4 linked regions of the Homo sapiens genome follow. The protein of the gene in region 3 purifies or fractionates together with the protein of the main gene of each other region. This does not show direct contact. Each region holds a gene or a part of one and is shown on either strand. Other genes may lie near its edges.

Region 1 (3,500 bases), on a different chromosome or scaffold from region 3:
TAGGTTTTTCTCTGTTCTGCATGTGAATGTGGTGCTGTGGCATTTTGAAAGGACTGCAGGGGCTCATCAAACTTGTGGGTGAAAACTGAATTGTTCAGCCTGTAAAATAACAGTGATGGTCTCCACCATCTCCATTTTTTAAGAAAAAGATACGCTGGGGCGACAGTTGTACCTGTGCCTCCTCTGCGGGGTAGAGACGCCTCCAGGAGCACATGGGGACTGTCCCTATGTGTTCCTGACTGTGTGGACACTTATTGCTTACCGTGCTCCCTTGCTGCCTTTTTGTGTGCTCAGCTTTTGACTGCAAAGTAGACTTGTTGCCTTGCCAATTCGTTCACTCTTTAAACCCTTTTATCTTGTTATTAGGCTGCTCTTTGGCGTAAATTGCAATCGATTAGGGATCGTTTCTCAGAATCAAGTTAGAAGTGAGAGTTCAGATAAGTGAGGCCGCCATTGCTGCTTTGAACACCTCAGAAGGGGAGAATGGATTTATCAGGAGTGAAAAAGAAGAGCTTGCTAGGAGTCAAAGAAAATAATAAAAAGTCCAGCACTAGGTAATCCTTCTGTAAGATTTTTCTAGTGCTACTTGGGGGTGCTTACTGCTAGGGACCCGCAGAAAGGGGAAAGTTGAGAATGTTCTGCATTCTACAGTGAGTGTTCTGAGCCACAGACCACTTTGCTCTGTGGTCACCTCGGGTCTCTGTGGCCCTGCTGATGCTGATCCCCCGTTTTGGGTTGTGCTGTTTGGGTTTGGTCAGAGGAGCACGCAATCTCACACTCTTCCTCACCATCCAGGGCTCCTTCACCTACCAAACGCAAAGACCGCTCAGATGAGAAGTCCAAGGATCGCTCAAAAGATAAAGGGGCCACCAAGGAGTCGAGTGAGAAGGATCGCGGCCGGGACAAAACCCGAAAGAGGCGCAGCGCTTCCAGTGGTAGCAGCAGTACCAGGTGGGGCGGGCTGGCCTGGAGCCTGGAGAGGACCTGTGCCACAGCTACACCCCCACTCCCCACAGATGGCTCGGTTTTCTTGATTATTTACAAAGAAAACACATCCTCTGATTGTTAGTAGAGACCCTAATTTATGGCAGACTGGCTAGGTGCAGTGGTGGCTCATGCCTATAATCCCAGCACTTTGGGAGGCCGAGGCAGGAGGATTGCTTGGGGCCTGGAGTTCAAGACCAGCATGGGCAACAAAACAAGAGCTCGTCTCTACAAAAAAAAAAAAAAAAGAGTAATTTGTAAAATTAGCTGAGCGTGGTGGCATGCATCTGTAGTCCCAGCTACTTGGGAGGGCTGAGGCAAGAGGATGGCTTGAGCCCAGGAGTTTGAGGAAAATAAACAAAACTAGCCGGGTGTGGTGGTACACGCCTGTACTCCCAGCTACTCGGGAGGCTGAGTCAGGAGGATGGCTTGATTCCAGGGGGTTGAAGCTGCAGTGTGCGGAGATCATGCCACTGCACTCCAGCTTGGGTGGCAGACCCTGTCTCAAAAGAAAAAATCAACCTAGCCTGGGTCAGCATCAGCCAGCAGCTGCCTTCCCAGCCTGAGTTGGCAGTTGTGACTTTTGCCAGAGTCCTTTGCCTCCCAGCAGGAAAGGCTTCTGTATGGGTAGAAGGCAGCCCATCACCTCTGTCCTGTCCCACACACAATGTGACACCTAGGGCTCTGACTTGCTGGGGGATTGGGGGGTGATGTTTTCCCCACTGCTGAAAGCAGTGAGGCCTGGAGGCACCCGAACAGCAGGTTTCTCCTGGGGGGAGCACAACAGAATTGGAGGAGGCGTCTGTACTGTGAGACTTGGTGTGTGGTGGTTGTGACCCCTCATCTTGCCCTCAGGTCTCGGTCCAGCTCGACTTCCAGCTCAGGCTCCAGCACCAGCACTGGCTCAAGCAGTGGCTCCAGCTCTTCCTCAGCATCCAGCCGCTCAGGAAGCTCCAGCACCTCCCGCAGCTCCAGCTCTAGCAGCTCTTCTGGCTCTCCAAGTCCTTCTCGGCGCAGACACGACAACAGGAGGCGCTCCCGCTCCAAGTGAGTGCCCTGCGCCTGGGAGCTAAAGTTTACAAGCTCGGGGCTACAGATTTACCATCGAGGTTATAAAAGGGACCCAAAAGGAGTCTTTCTGTGTTAATAGGATTTCTGAGACAGGAATAATGTATGTGAACTAGCAGGAAAGTCTTCCTTATGAAAACTGTCACACAAGCAGATAAGAGCTTACTCGAAAGGCGTCTAGTACATTTTGACTTGACAGAAATTGTTTCTGGTGTTTTGTTTTCTCAATCAGATCCAAACCACCTAAAAGAGATGAAAAGGAGAGGAAAAGGCGGAGCCCATCTCCTAAGCCCACCAAAGTGCACATTGGGAGACTCACCCGGAATGTGACAAAGGTGAGGATCATGGATCTCTCCTGTGGGCAGTGGGGTGTGGACAAGCAGGCCTGTGCCTGCAGATGAACTTAGAATGTAGCCTTTTGGAGGACTGGGGTGGTGGCATGTGGTTTGAGTACAGCATTGATTCGTTCCTCTTGGTGGACCATTAATACATGTGTCTGGGAGATTTATCCCAGAACAACACTGGTACTCATCAGATGGAATGTTTTACCCTGCCGAGGTTTTAGTCATGATGTGCTGAGCTCTCTGCGTCTGACGTGACTGACTGGTAGCTGGGCGTTGGCGTGACCCTTCTTTCCCTCTAGGATCACATCATGGAGATATTTTCCACCTATGGGAAAATTAAAATGATTGACATGCCCGTGGAAAGGATGCATCCCCATCTGTCCAAAGGCTATGCGTACGTAGAGTTTGAGAATCCAGATGAAGCCGAGAAGGCGCTGAAGCACATGGATGGAGGTGGGTGACCCTGCCACATAACCCTGACCTCTCAGAGACCCGCCGCCGCGAGGGGCTTTCAAACTGATTTCCAACTGGGCTGCACTTCTTTTTGTTTGTTTGAGACAGAGTTTCACACTTGTTGCCCAGGCTGGGGTGCAGTTCCTGGACCAAACTGAGGTTTGGGCTGCTATTTCTCATGGCCCAATAACAAGATGCACATTAACTGAGTAGGTGGAGTTTTTATTTCTGCAACCAGTTGCAGGGAAAAGGCCTGGAAATTATTGCCAGACCAACTTAAAATTACAAAGTTTTTCAGAGCTTATATATTTTTTAAGCTATATGTCTATACATATGTGTACATTTATGTAAAGACATAAGTTACTGACTTTTAATCTATTAACTAAGGATTGAGTCTTGAAGACCTTCCTCTGGAGCCTCAGTAAATTGACTTAATTTAAATGGCTGTGAGTGCTGGGGTAATTACCCTTGCTTTGCCTTCTGCTAAATCACAGCAGTTTGGGGAGTTTTCTTCCCAATAAAACTGGCTTAATCCTAAATGGGTCCTGACGTATTCTTCGTTATTTTATGTTTTAAGGCCCAGGAAAGGCCTAAGCTAAACTTTTGGTGGGCTTTTCTTATATCCCAGCCTTTGTATAAGGGCCTTGGCTT
Region 2 (3,500 bases), on a different chromosome or scaffold from region 3:
ACGCGTGAACTCTCCACAAAGTGACTTTGTGGTCACTCTGACCGAGGTGCCTGGCAGCCTCTGGGGAACTGCCGTGCCTGGGCAGGTGCAGCTGTCTGGCTCAGCCTCTCCAGGCTCATCCCGCCCACCTCCCCGTTCAGTTCCCACTACTGTGTGGCTCGCCATCAGGCCTGGGTAAACATGGCCTCTGCCCCCTCCCACCCCCCACCCCAGCAGCTGCCCTTGTGCAATTAGGCTCTTGTGGACCCTTTCTGATCTCACTTTTGTTTCCATAGGGAACTGTACCTGGGGAATGAATTGTAGGTTTATACACCCTGGAGTGAACGACAAGGGGAACTACTCCCTAATCACCAAAGCCGACCCCTTCCCGCCTAATGGTGCCCCGCCTCTCGGACCTCACCCGCTGATGCCCGCCAACCCTTGGGTGCGTGATGCCTCTTCTTTCATTGTTAGCACATCAGCCAACTGAGCTGTGTCTGAATCTCAAGCTTAAGACAAGTCACTGTGCCTTAGCACAGGCTCAGTGCCCCCTTTCGGCTGCTTCTGTCGTCCCGAGTGGAAGCAGGCCTCGGCTTTCCGAGGACGGAGTGAGGCTTGGTGGAAGGAGAGCGGCCACACACGGCCGGCTTGTGTTGTAGTTGATGTTTTTACTGTCTGGTTTCTCTGTACACTTGAAAGTTTTACTTTCTCACCTTCTCCCTTCTCGTTTTTCAATAGGGTGGGCCGGTAGTTGATGAAATTTTGCCTCCACCCCCTCCAGAGCCCCCAACAGAGAGTGCCTGGGAACGAGGACTCCGGCATGCAAAGGAGGTAAACACAATTCAGCAGAAATCCCGACAAGAAAGATGCTATTACAGGAGTGGTTCTTGACAAAACTGGGATTTCCTCGGTCCAGAGAGAGCCCCAGAAATCTCTGAAGTTAGGCGTCTGTTTCTGTGGTGTCTTTCTTTATTTTTTATTTATTTATTTTTTTGGAGACAGAGTTTCACTCTTGTTGCCCAGGCTGGAGTGCAATGGCCCAAACTCGACTCACTGCAGCCTCCGCCTCCCAGGTTCATGTGATTCTCCTGCTCGGCCTCCCAAGTAGCTGGGATTACAGGCATGCGCCACCAGGCCCGGAAGGATGGAGAGTTATATCTAACTGTCTCAGGCAGCAGCCCAGTAGGCCAGGGAGTTCAGTCCAGGGCATACCCACTGTCTTCATGGGGCTGGATCAGCACTGGGCCACACCCCAGCTGGCACTGCCCAGGAGCACAGGGTGCAGTCTCCAGCCACTCACAGAAAGCCTGGCGAGGCTGCCCGAGCCGCACCCCCAGGATCTGCACCCCACACTCCTGAGACTCAGTGTCTGCTCTTCCTGGAGAAAACTTGGAGCTTTCTGGTCCTATCACTGCACACTTCCTCCCTCTAGGCCCACGTTGGCCCCAGTGTGTGAGCTTCAGCTCTGGGGACCACTCTGCTGGCACCCAGCCCCACTTCCTCATTTTCCTGGTCAGCCTCCCTGCTGGGAAATGACGGACAAGATGTTCCTTCTCACTCCCTCGGCATGTCACTTCCTTCCCTCTGAGACTCCAGCCACTCCACCTGCTGCTTGTCACTGAGTGACTGAACCCTGGATCTAGTTCCAAGGGTAGTTGAAGGAAGTGATGAACACCTCATGTGGGCACACGGAGGCCGGGGGCAGCTGTTTGTGCAGAGACGGGCACAGACTGCCCTCCCCAGAAGGACAACTGTGCTGTGTCCGCCCCTCACCCCTTGAGCACTTGCAGCGTGCAGCTCCTGCTCCTGCAGGGCTGCTGCGGTCGGGTGGGACGGCTCCCTTTGTGTTTCCTAACAGCGACGCCCGGTATTCTGTTCCATGTTGACTTCTTTCTTCTTACAATGGTAGGTTTTAAAAAAAGCAACTATTCGAAAAGAACAGGAGCCTGATTTTGAAGAGAAAAGGTTTACGGTGACCATTGGCGAAGACGAACGGGAATTTGACAAAGAAAATGAAGTTTTTCGAGATTGGAATTCTCGGATCCCGAGAGATGTCAGAGACACAGTGTAAGGAATGGCCCTGCCTGCCCCTCCGTTTCCTTCCTGCATGCGGCCACGCTCCGGAGAGAGCAGCCATGTGCAGGGCCCCAGGGTGCGCTCGGCTGAGACCCAGCCCCACTCACTGGAGTCTCAGTGACGTTCCTGAGAGCATTCAGGCACGGTTCTCAGAGCTCATCTCAGTTTTTTGCTTCTAGGAAGGAAGCGTTAGGGCTCTGTGCCATGGGCCTTGACTGGCAGCACTCACACCGTTGTGGTTCCTGAGCTCTGAGAGTTTTCGCTGCTGTCCTTGAGGCCTCTAGAGCCCCACAAGTCTGTGTTTCTGGCTCCTCACCCCTGCCCACATTACCCAGGAGCCAGGAAACGTGTGGAGGTTGCCACAAGCCAGGAACACAACAGCTGCGGCCTCTTCGCTGTCAGGGCTGTTCTGCCTTCACTGCTTCTCCTCCAGGGCATTGATGGCTGGTTTTTGTTTTTTGGTTTTTTTTCCCGAGGCAGAGTCTTGCTCTGTCGCCCAAGCTGGAGTGCAGTTGCGCAATCTTGGCTCACTGCAACCTCCGCCTCCCTGGGTTGAAGTGATTCTCCTGCTTCAGCCTCCTGAGTAGCTGGAACTACAGGTGTCTGCTACCACACCCAACTCAGTTTTGTGTTTTTAGTAGAGATGGATTTCACCATGTTGGCCAGGATGGTCTCGAACTCCTGACCTCAAGTGATCCACCCACGCCTGCCTCCCAGAGTGCTGGGACTACAGGCGTGAACCACTGCACCCAGCCCCTTTATGCCTGGTCTTTAAAAATCCTGTCTTAACAGAAGAAGTGCCTGGGTCGAAGGGTGGAAGTCAGATCTTGGGGGATTGCATGGCATATAAAGTGCTGTTTTCCTCTGCCTGTGGATGGCACGGTGAGGTTCAGGGCAGGGAACTGGATTATAATTCGGGCAGATCTGAATTGGCACTCCATCATGCTGAGGCTTTAGCAGCCCTGTACATTTCTGGTTGCTATTAGGGAATCATAATCACTATGATTTCTATCTGGAGTGACAATAAACGGTGCTCAAAAAAGGAAGGCGTGCAGGGCTTGCACTCCAGGATTTGGTCCTGTCGACTTGGCCCTGCAAGGCCCTTCTCAAGGCCTTCTTGCCGCGAGCAGGCTACCCTGGGCTTTCCGCCTGCGGAAGTTGGGGGAGGAAGCCCCAGTGGCCCACACCTGCCCCAGCAGGTGAGAGCTTAGAGGTTAAAGGGATAGGTATTTAAAGACTTGGTTAACATGTACATTTTCTAATTAAGTTTTGTGTGGAATGTCAGATCACAGAAAGGAGCATTTGAGTCAGAACTCTGCAGGATCACCAGGGGTGTCTCCTGAAGCCCTGGAGGCCTTTGTGTTTTTTTGTTAGATGTGGATATCGTCTTTCCTTCCCCAGAGCTCGTGTGCACAGAGGTCTCTATAAATATGTGTGGGGAAGGA
Region 3 (3,500 bases):
AGCCCAGGAGTTCAATACCAGCCTGGGCAACATAGCGAGATCCTGTCTCTATATTTAAAAAAAAAACAAAAACCCATAACCAGAATGCTATTATTGTGCCTAAAACATTTAATAATAATTCCTCTATTCTCAGCAGTTTTTTCTGTAGTTTATTCCAATCAGGATCCAAATAATGTCCCTAAATTGCAGTGACCGTATTCTTATGGTATTCTTTGGCATGTTCTGTCCTCTGTATTTCCAATAGATTAATAGGTCTAGAGGCCTGAGAAGGCTCAGATTTGAGTTGGGGCAAGAATACTTCATAAGTGGTGCTGTTTACTGTCAGGAGGCAAATAATGTCTGGTTGTCACTTTTTGTCATATTAACAGCCATTGATGGTCATTATCTCGATCCATTATTTCATTAGGGGTTGTAAAATGGTGATAGTCTAATCCTGGCTTTATCCTTCATTTATTAGGCAGAATGATTCTATAAGAGAAACTTACCCTCATCAACTATTTAGATACCCTGAAATATAGTTTATATTGTAAGAGCAGGATAATTGCTTGATTTTTTTTGTTTTAATGACTTTTCAAATAATGAATTGGATTTTTAAAAAGTATTATTAACCCAAGGATTTAAACATATTTGACATATTTTAATCCATTACACATAAAATTATTCATAATGTTCAAATTGTTGGGACTTTTTAGGCTGTTTTATTTCTGTTGTCTTTCTACAACATCAGAACTGTATTTCATTGTTCCCTTTAGTGAATTTTTTTTTTTTTGAGACCGTGTCTCACCCTGTCACCCAGGCTGGAATGCAGTGGCACGATCACAGCTCACTACAACCTCAACCTTCCAGGATCAAGCCATCCTCCCACCTCTGCCCCCACTTTCCCCATACCTGGGACTACAGGCGTGTGCCACCACACCTGGCTAATTTTTGTATTTTTTGTAGAGACACGGTTTCGTCATGTTGCCCAGGGCTAGTTTCTAACCCCTGGGCTCAAGTGACCCACCCGCCTCAGTCTTCCAATGTGCTGGGATTACAGGGGTGAAACACTACACCCAGCCTCCTTTAGTGATAATTTTTATAGCAAAAGATGATTTGGTTAAATAAGTTAGAATACTTTTTAAAAAAATTCTTAAGAGGCAGTGTCTCGCTCTGTTGCCCAGACTGGAGTGCAGTGGGCTAATCATAGCTCATTGCAGCCTCGAACTCCTGGGCTCAAGTGATCCTCCCGCCTCAGCCTCCTGAATAGCTTAGACTACAGATGTGTGCCATCACACCCAGCTACTTTTTTTTTTTTTTAATAGAGACGGGGTCTTGCTCTGTTTCCCAGGTTCAGTTAGAAGCAGATTTTTTTAAGTAAAATTATCTTGTAAGTTTGAATAAGCTGGGAATTCAGATCATTTTATTGTCACCTTTCTTTGCCTTGAAAAATTAAGATGTATAGTCACCAGTTCAAAATTTAAAAAGAAAAGAAAAATTAAGATGCCCTCTAACATAGGAAGATTAAGTGAATTTGTATCAAATTAAAATCCCTATAGGAAGAAATATAAGAAAAAGAGGTCTAAGAAGAGCAGAAAAGAGTCCAGTGATTCAAGCTCTAAAGAATCCCAAGAAGAGTTTCTGGAAAATCCCTGGAAGGATCGAACAAGTAGGTTCTTCTGATAGACTAACTCAGAACAGATGAAACATTAAAGTAACCAATTAGTCAGAATGTGAATGTGTTTCTTAATATCTTTCATGCAGAGGCTGAAGAACCATCAGATTTAATTGGCCCAGAGGCTCCAAAAACACTTACCTCTCAAGATGATAAACCTTTGAAGTAAGCAGCAGTGTGTTTATAATATCTAAAGTACCTACCAAAAAGTCTGGTTCTAACTTACCTTGCCAAGCTTATCTGACTCTATTCCCTTATTTCTACTCCAGGTTCCAGCTGAGCTGGACTACTAAATATTCCCTGGGCTTAATGTGCACTTTGCAACTTTTATGCCATGTTCAGCTTATTTCTTCATCCAGTATGCCTTCCCTTCTTTTCCCTGCCCTCTGTTTTCTTCCCTATCGCCAGTTTCTTCCTGTTAAAATCCTTACTATCCTTCGAAGCCCTTTTCAAAAGGAGATGCATATGCTGATTCCCAATACTTCCCCTCCACAAGTAGGTGTGATTTCTGTTTCTCTTTGATCCTCACAGAATTTTTTATTCCTTTTTTTCTCTTTTTTCTTTTTTTACCAGCAGAATTTTTTTTTCTTTTTGTGAGACGGAGTCTCGCTCTGTTGCCCAGGCTGGAGTTTAGTGGCGTGATCTTGGCTCACTGCAACCTCTGCCTCCCAGGTTCAAGCGATTCTCCTGCCTCAGCCTCCTGAGTAACTGGGATTACAGGCACGCGCCACCACACTCAGCTAATTTTTTTTTGTATTTTCAGTAGAGATACGGTTTTACCATGTTGGTCAGGCTGGTCTCAAATTCCTGACCTCATGATCCACCTGCCTCAGCCTCCCAAAGTGCTGGGATTACAGGCGTGAGCCACCGCACCTGGTCTAGAATTTTTTTTTTGTTTGTTTTGTTTTGTTTTTTTGAGATGGAGTCTCACTCTGTCTCCCAGGCTGAAGCACAGTGGTGTGATTGAGTTTCACTCTGTTGCCCAGGCTGGAGTGCAGTGGCATGATCTTGGCTCACTGCAACCTCCACCTCCCAGATTCAAGTGATTCTCCTGCCTCAGCCTCCCAAGTAGCCAGGATTACAGGCGCCTGCCGCCACGCCCGGACTAATTTTTGTATTTTTAGTAGAGCTGGGGTTTCGCCATGTTGGCCAGTATGGTCTCGAACTCCTGATCTCAAGTGATCTGCCCGCCTCAACCTCCAAAAATGCTGAGATTACAGGCGTCAGCCACTGCACCCAGCCTACTTTGTTTTTTTTTTTTGTTTTGTTTTGTTTTGTTTTTTGAGACAAAGCCTTACTCTGTCGCCCAGGCTGGAGTGCAGTGACACGATCTCGGCTCACTGCAACCTCTGCCTCCCAGGTTCAAGTGATTCTCCTGCCTCAGCCTCCTGAGTAGCTGGGACTACAAGCATGCACCACCATGCCCGGCTAATTTTGTATTTTTAGTAGAGACGGGGTTTCGCTATGTTGGCCAGGCTGCTCTCAAGCTCCTGATCTCAGGTGATCCTCCCGCCTCAGCCTCCCAAAGTGTTCAGATTGTAGGCGTGAGCCACTGTGCCTGGCATACTTTGGATTTTTTAAGGGAAAAAGGGAAAGGGAATCAGCTGGAGCCAGAACCAGTAATGACAATACCTGTAGGGATAAATTAATCCATAATTGTAAACTGTGAATCTATACTCACAGCAGTTCTTTTCTTTCAAAATATTTCTGCATTTCTGGGTTAGTTGTATAGGTCATAGTGCAATGCAATGTTTAATACACTAATTAGGATAAAGCAATTCACATTGAGCTTCCTAGCACACTACTGCTGAGCACTGTTATTCCTACTCTTGTTTGAGAGAAAATGTGG
Region 4 (3,500 bases), on a different chromosome or scaffold from region 3:
GCTCATATCTGTAATCCCAGAACTTTAGGAGGATCACTTGAGCCCAGGAGTTGGAGACCAGCCTGGACAACATAATGAGACCCTCGACTCCATGCATGGTGATGTGTGGCAGTAGTCCAGACTACTAGGAAGCTGAGGCAGGAGCTTCCCTTGAGCCCAGGAGGGAATGCTACAGAGAGCAATGAACATGTGGCTGCGCTCCAGTCTGGGCAACAGAGTGAGACCCTGTCTCCAAAAAAAAAAAAAAAAAGGCTATATGCAGACAACCGACTCTTAACAGTAGTGACTAGATATAGTACTTATACACTTAACCACTCAACAGGAGGAGATGGACTTTCCTGATGCAAAGGCTTTTGCTGGCCAATTGGCAGAGATGCCAGGAATATGTGTGGGGATGGGAAATAGGCCTGGTGAGCTCAGCCACCTGACCCTCCTTGCTACACAGAAGCGGTCACGTCCTGTCAAGTAACCTGAATTATGTTTCTTAAAATTGAGAGGACTCAGATGTCTTTTTTCACTCTAGCTATGTTGTTTCCAGTCTCCAGTTAGCTTTGTTGTCCCACTCAGTGGCAGAGCGGTGCAAGACTACCCTCTTGAGTTTGGATCCCTCTTTGCTTTTGTCTGGGCTGTTAGCCACTAAGAAAAATGTAGGAATGAAATGTTGGGCTTCTGTGCCCACGTGGCCCATTTCTCATGCCCTCTTTTGGTCCTGCAGACACTCTCGAAAGCGATGGGAACGCTTTGTCCACAGTGAAAATCAGCACCTTGTCAGCCCTGAGGCCTTGGATTTCCTGGACAAACTGCTGCGATATGACCACCAGTCACGGCTTACTGCAAGAGAGGCAATGGAGCACCCCTATTTCTGTGAGTCCAGATATCTAGCCCACAGAGTTTGTGCAGGCGCAGAGTCCTATAGAACAGAGTCGTAATCCCAGCTCCTGTCAGCTTGCTGCAAAGTTAATTCACCCACACTGAGCCTCAGATTCTTCCAGTGGGGATAGTGATGGCAACTACATTGCAGAATTACTGGAAGAATTCTTCTGTAACAGAATACATGACACAAGAGCATTCCTAAATAAACTCTTTTCATACTGTGAGGATGACACTTCTCAGTGCCTCAGTCTGGAATGGTTGAATTAGAATACACAGCCCTGTATCTTTCCTGTCCCTAGTAATCATTCGTTGGAAAGAGCTAATGAGGCTTACAAATCTTAAAATTGTATGAACACCTTGACTTAGATTTGTGAGTATAGCCACCTGTGCCATCCTAAGTGAAAATACCACTGAGACCCACCCCATCTGCACTGTGATGTTAGCTGCAACATGACATTTTTCCTTCGGTGTGATGGTTTTGTACTGAATCATTTATACTTTTGCCCAATACCTGAAGCAGATAGATAGGCTGATTGGGATAGAGAATGTGGTCATAGCCCTAAGCTACATGGACCTATAGCTTTGGCCTACTTGGTACTGGGCTGTGGACACACTGGTAATATATTACCGTCTTTGCCGAGTTACAGTGTCTTGTCTCCATTAAACCTCAACAGGACCAGGGCTTCATTAAATTCGCTCTGCTATAAATAATTACCTCATCTTTCTACCATTTGATTGAAAGGTTAGCTTTTACCACAGTTTGATAGGAAAGCTATTTCTGCTTTTTACCACTTGTCTAATTCATGGTGAAGGCAATTGCCACCTTAAGTTCTTTGGGGAATAATGTAGAGTATATATAAATTGCAAAGAATGAAGCTGGCTGCTTTCAGGCTTCCAGACCATTAGTTTAATCTTTCAAGCAAAACAGAACCTAGCCTTTTTGTCTCTTTTCTAGACACTGTTGTGAAGGACCAGGCTCGAATGGGTTCATCTAGCATGCCAGGGGGCAGTACGCCCGTCAGCAGCGCCAATATGATGTCAGGTCAGTTCATTGGTAAATTTTCTTTAAAAAAATGTGGAAGTCAATTACTGTTCTTAGCTTTGTGGTCTGATTTCTTGTATACCTTCTCTTCTCCGTACTGGTGGCCTTGTGACTTTTTTTTAACCAGGTTTCAGCATGCTTGACATTTGGTATACTTTAGTGATACTGTCTTGAGTAGGGTATCCCCTTCTAGGCTAGAATCTCAGCATTCCTGGCTGAAAATTTTTGGCATAGGGGCTTGAAAGTGCCAAGCCATGAAAAGGAAAAATACACCATTTCATCTTATAGTTTGAAATGACAGTAGTTACATGGCCCTTAGAAACAATGTTAAGAAATGGGGTATAGAGGTGGGGTTTATACATAGGTGTGTATGTGTACAAGGACAGTTCCGTGACATGTGCCAGAGCAACTATAGAGTGCCTATCAGTTGTAAAAACATAAGTAAAATGGTTTTCCATTATTGGATCATTGTGACGCACAGTGAATTTTTATAGAGTACCCAGTTATTCCAAAGGAACTACAGGCACATAGCATAAGAATTATACATATAGGCAACATCCAAGTGGGTGCATATCTGGTAGTGAAGGCATTTACTTACATATCCTCAAATAATTGCTGTTGCCCTCCTCTTTTTTAAGAAAAGAACTAACTGCCTTCTAGAATTTACCCCTTGAGTATCCTACCTCTGTACAGAGTAATGTATATCCAAACTTACTTGTAGCCTTATTTGTAATAACAAAACATTGAGAATAGCTATCAGTAGGAAACTGGTTAAATCAGTTATGGTATATCCATTTAATGGAATGTGGTGCAGCCAGTAGAATAAGAGTTTCATGTTCTGTTAGATCTCCAACTCCAATATAATAATGTGAAATTTAAAACGCAAGATGCAGGGCCAGGTGCAGTGGCTCATGCCTGTAATCCCAGCACTTTGGGAGGCTGAGGCGGGTGGGTCACTTGAGGTCAGGAGTTCGAGACCAGCCTGGCCAGCATGGCGAAACCCTGTCTCTACTGGAAATACAAAAAATTAGCTGGGCGTGGCGGCGGCGCCTTTAATCCCAGCTACTTGGAGGCTAAGGCAAGATAATCGCTTGAACTTGGGAGGCAGAGGTTGCAGTGAGCCGAGATCGCACCGTTGCCCTCCAGCCTGGGTGAGAGTGAGACTCTGTCTCAAAAGAAAAAGTGAGATGCAGAGCCATGTCTAAGAGGAGTGGAGAAGAATGTATAATAATGTTCTCATATATATATATATATATATATATATATTTTTTTTTTTTTTTTTTTTTTTTTTTTTTTTTTTTTTTTTTTTGGAGACAAGGTCTTGCTCTGTGGCCAAGGCTGGAGTGCAGTGGCACAATCTCAGCTGCTGCAGCCTCCGCCTCCCGGGTTCAAGCGATTCTCCCACCTCAACCTCCCAGGTAGCTGGGACTACAGGCGCCCGCCATGACGCCCAGCTAATTTTTGTATTTTTAGTAGAGATGGGGTTTCACCATGTTGGCCAGGCTGGTCTTGAACTCCTGACCTCAGGTGATCCGCCCAACTTGGCCTCCCAAAGTGCTGGCATTACAGGCGTGAGACACTGCAC

The links. The genes of interacting proteins can lie anywhere in the genome.
Region 1: the proteins of NKAP (region 3) and RNPS1 purify together in Homo sapiens (co-immunoprecipitation; 4 studies listed by BioGRID and IntAct, with this or other methods). This does not show direct contact.
Region 2: the proteins of NKAP (region 3) and ZC3H18 purify together in Homo sapiens (affinity purification with mass spectrometry; 2 studies listed by BioGRID and IntAct, with this or other methods). This does not show direct contact.
Region 4: the proteins of NKAP (region 3) and CSNK2A1 purify together in Homo sapiens (affinity purification with mass spectrometry; 4 studies listed by BioGRID and IntAct, with this or other methods). This does not show direct contact.

The regions. Positions count from the first base shown.
Region 1 is NC_000016.10:2,261,627-2,265,126, reverse strand, and holds part of RNPS1 (RNA-binding protein with serine-rich domain 1), read left to right. Parts: intron 1-366; 5' UTR 367-483; coding exon 484-554; intron 555-795; coding exon 796-951; intron 952-1,839; coding exon 1,840-2,031; intron 2,032-2,284; coding exon 2,285-2,387; intron 2,388-2,695; coding exon 2,696-2,849; intron 2,850-3,500. UniProt on the Homo sapiens protein: Part of pre- and post-splicing multiprotein mRNP complexes. Auxiliary component of the splicing-dependent multiprotein exon junction complex (EJC) deposited at splice junction on mRNAs.
Region 2 is NC_000016.10:88,597,903-88,601,402, forward strand, and holds part of ZC3H18 (zinc finger CCCH domain-containing protein 18), read left to right. Parts: intron 1-275; coding exon 276-424; intron 425-717; coding exon 718-810; intron 811-1,888; coding exon 1,889-2,046; intron 2,047-3,500.
Region 3 is NC_000023.11:119,930,252-119,933,751, reverse strand, and holds part of NKAP (NF-kappa-B-activating protein), read left to right. Parts: intron 1-1,535; coding exon 1,536-1,645; intron 1,646-1,740; coding exon 1,741-1,816; intron 1,817-3,500. UniProt on the Homo sapiens protein: Acts as a transcriptional repressor. Plays a role as a transcriptional corepressor of the Notch-mediated signaling required for T-cell development. Also involved in the TNF and IL-1 induced NF-kappa-B activation.
Region 4 is NC_000020.11:484,791-488,290, reverse strand, and holds part of CSNK2A1 (casein kinase II subunit alpha), read left to right. Parts: intron 1-715; coding exon 716-864; intron 865-1,828; coding exon 1,829-1,915; intron 1,916-3,500. UniProt on the Homo sapiens protein: Catalytic subunit of a constitutively active serine/threonine-protein kinase complex that phosphorylates a large number of substrates containing acidic residues C-terminal to the phosphorylated serine or threonine.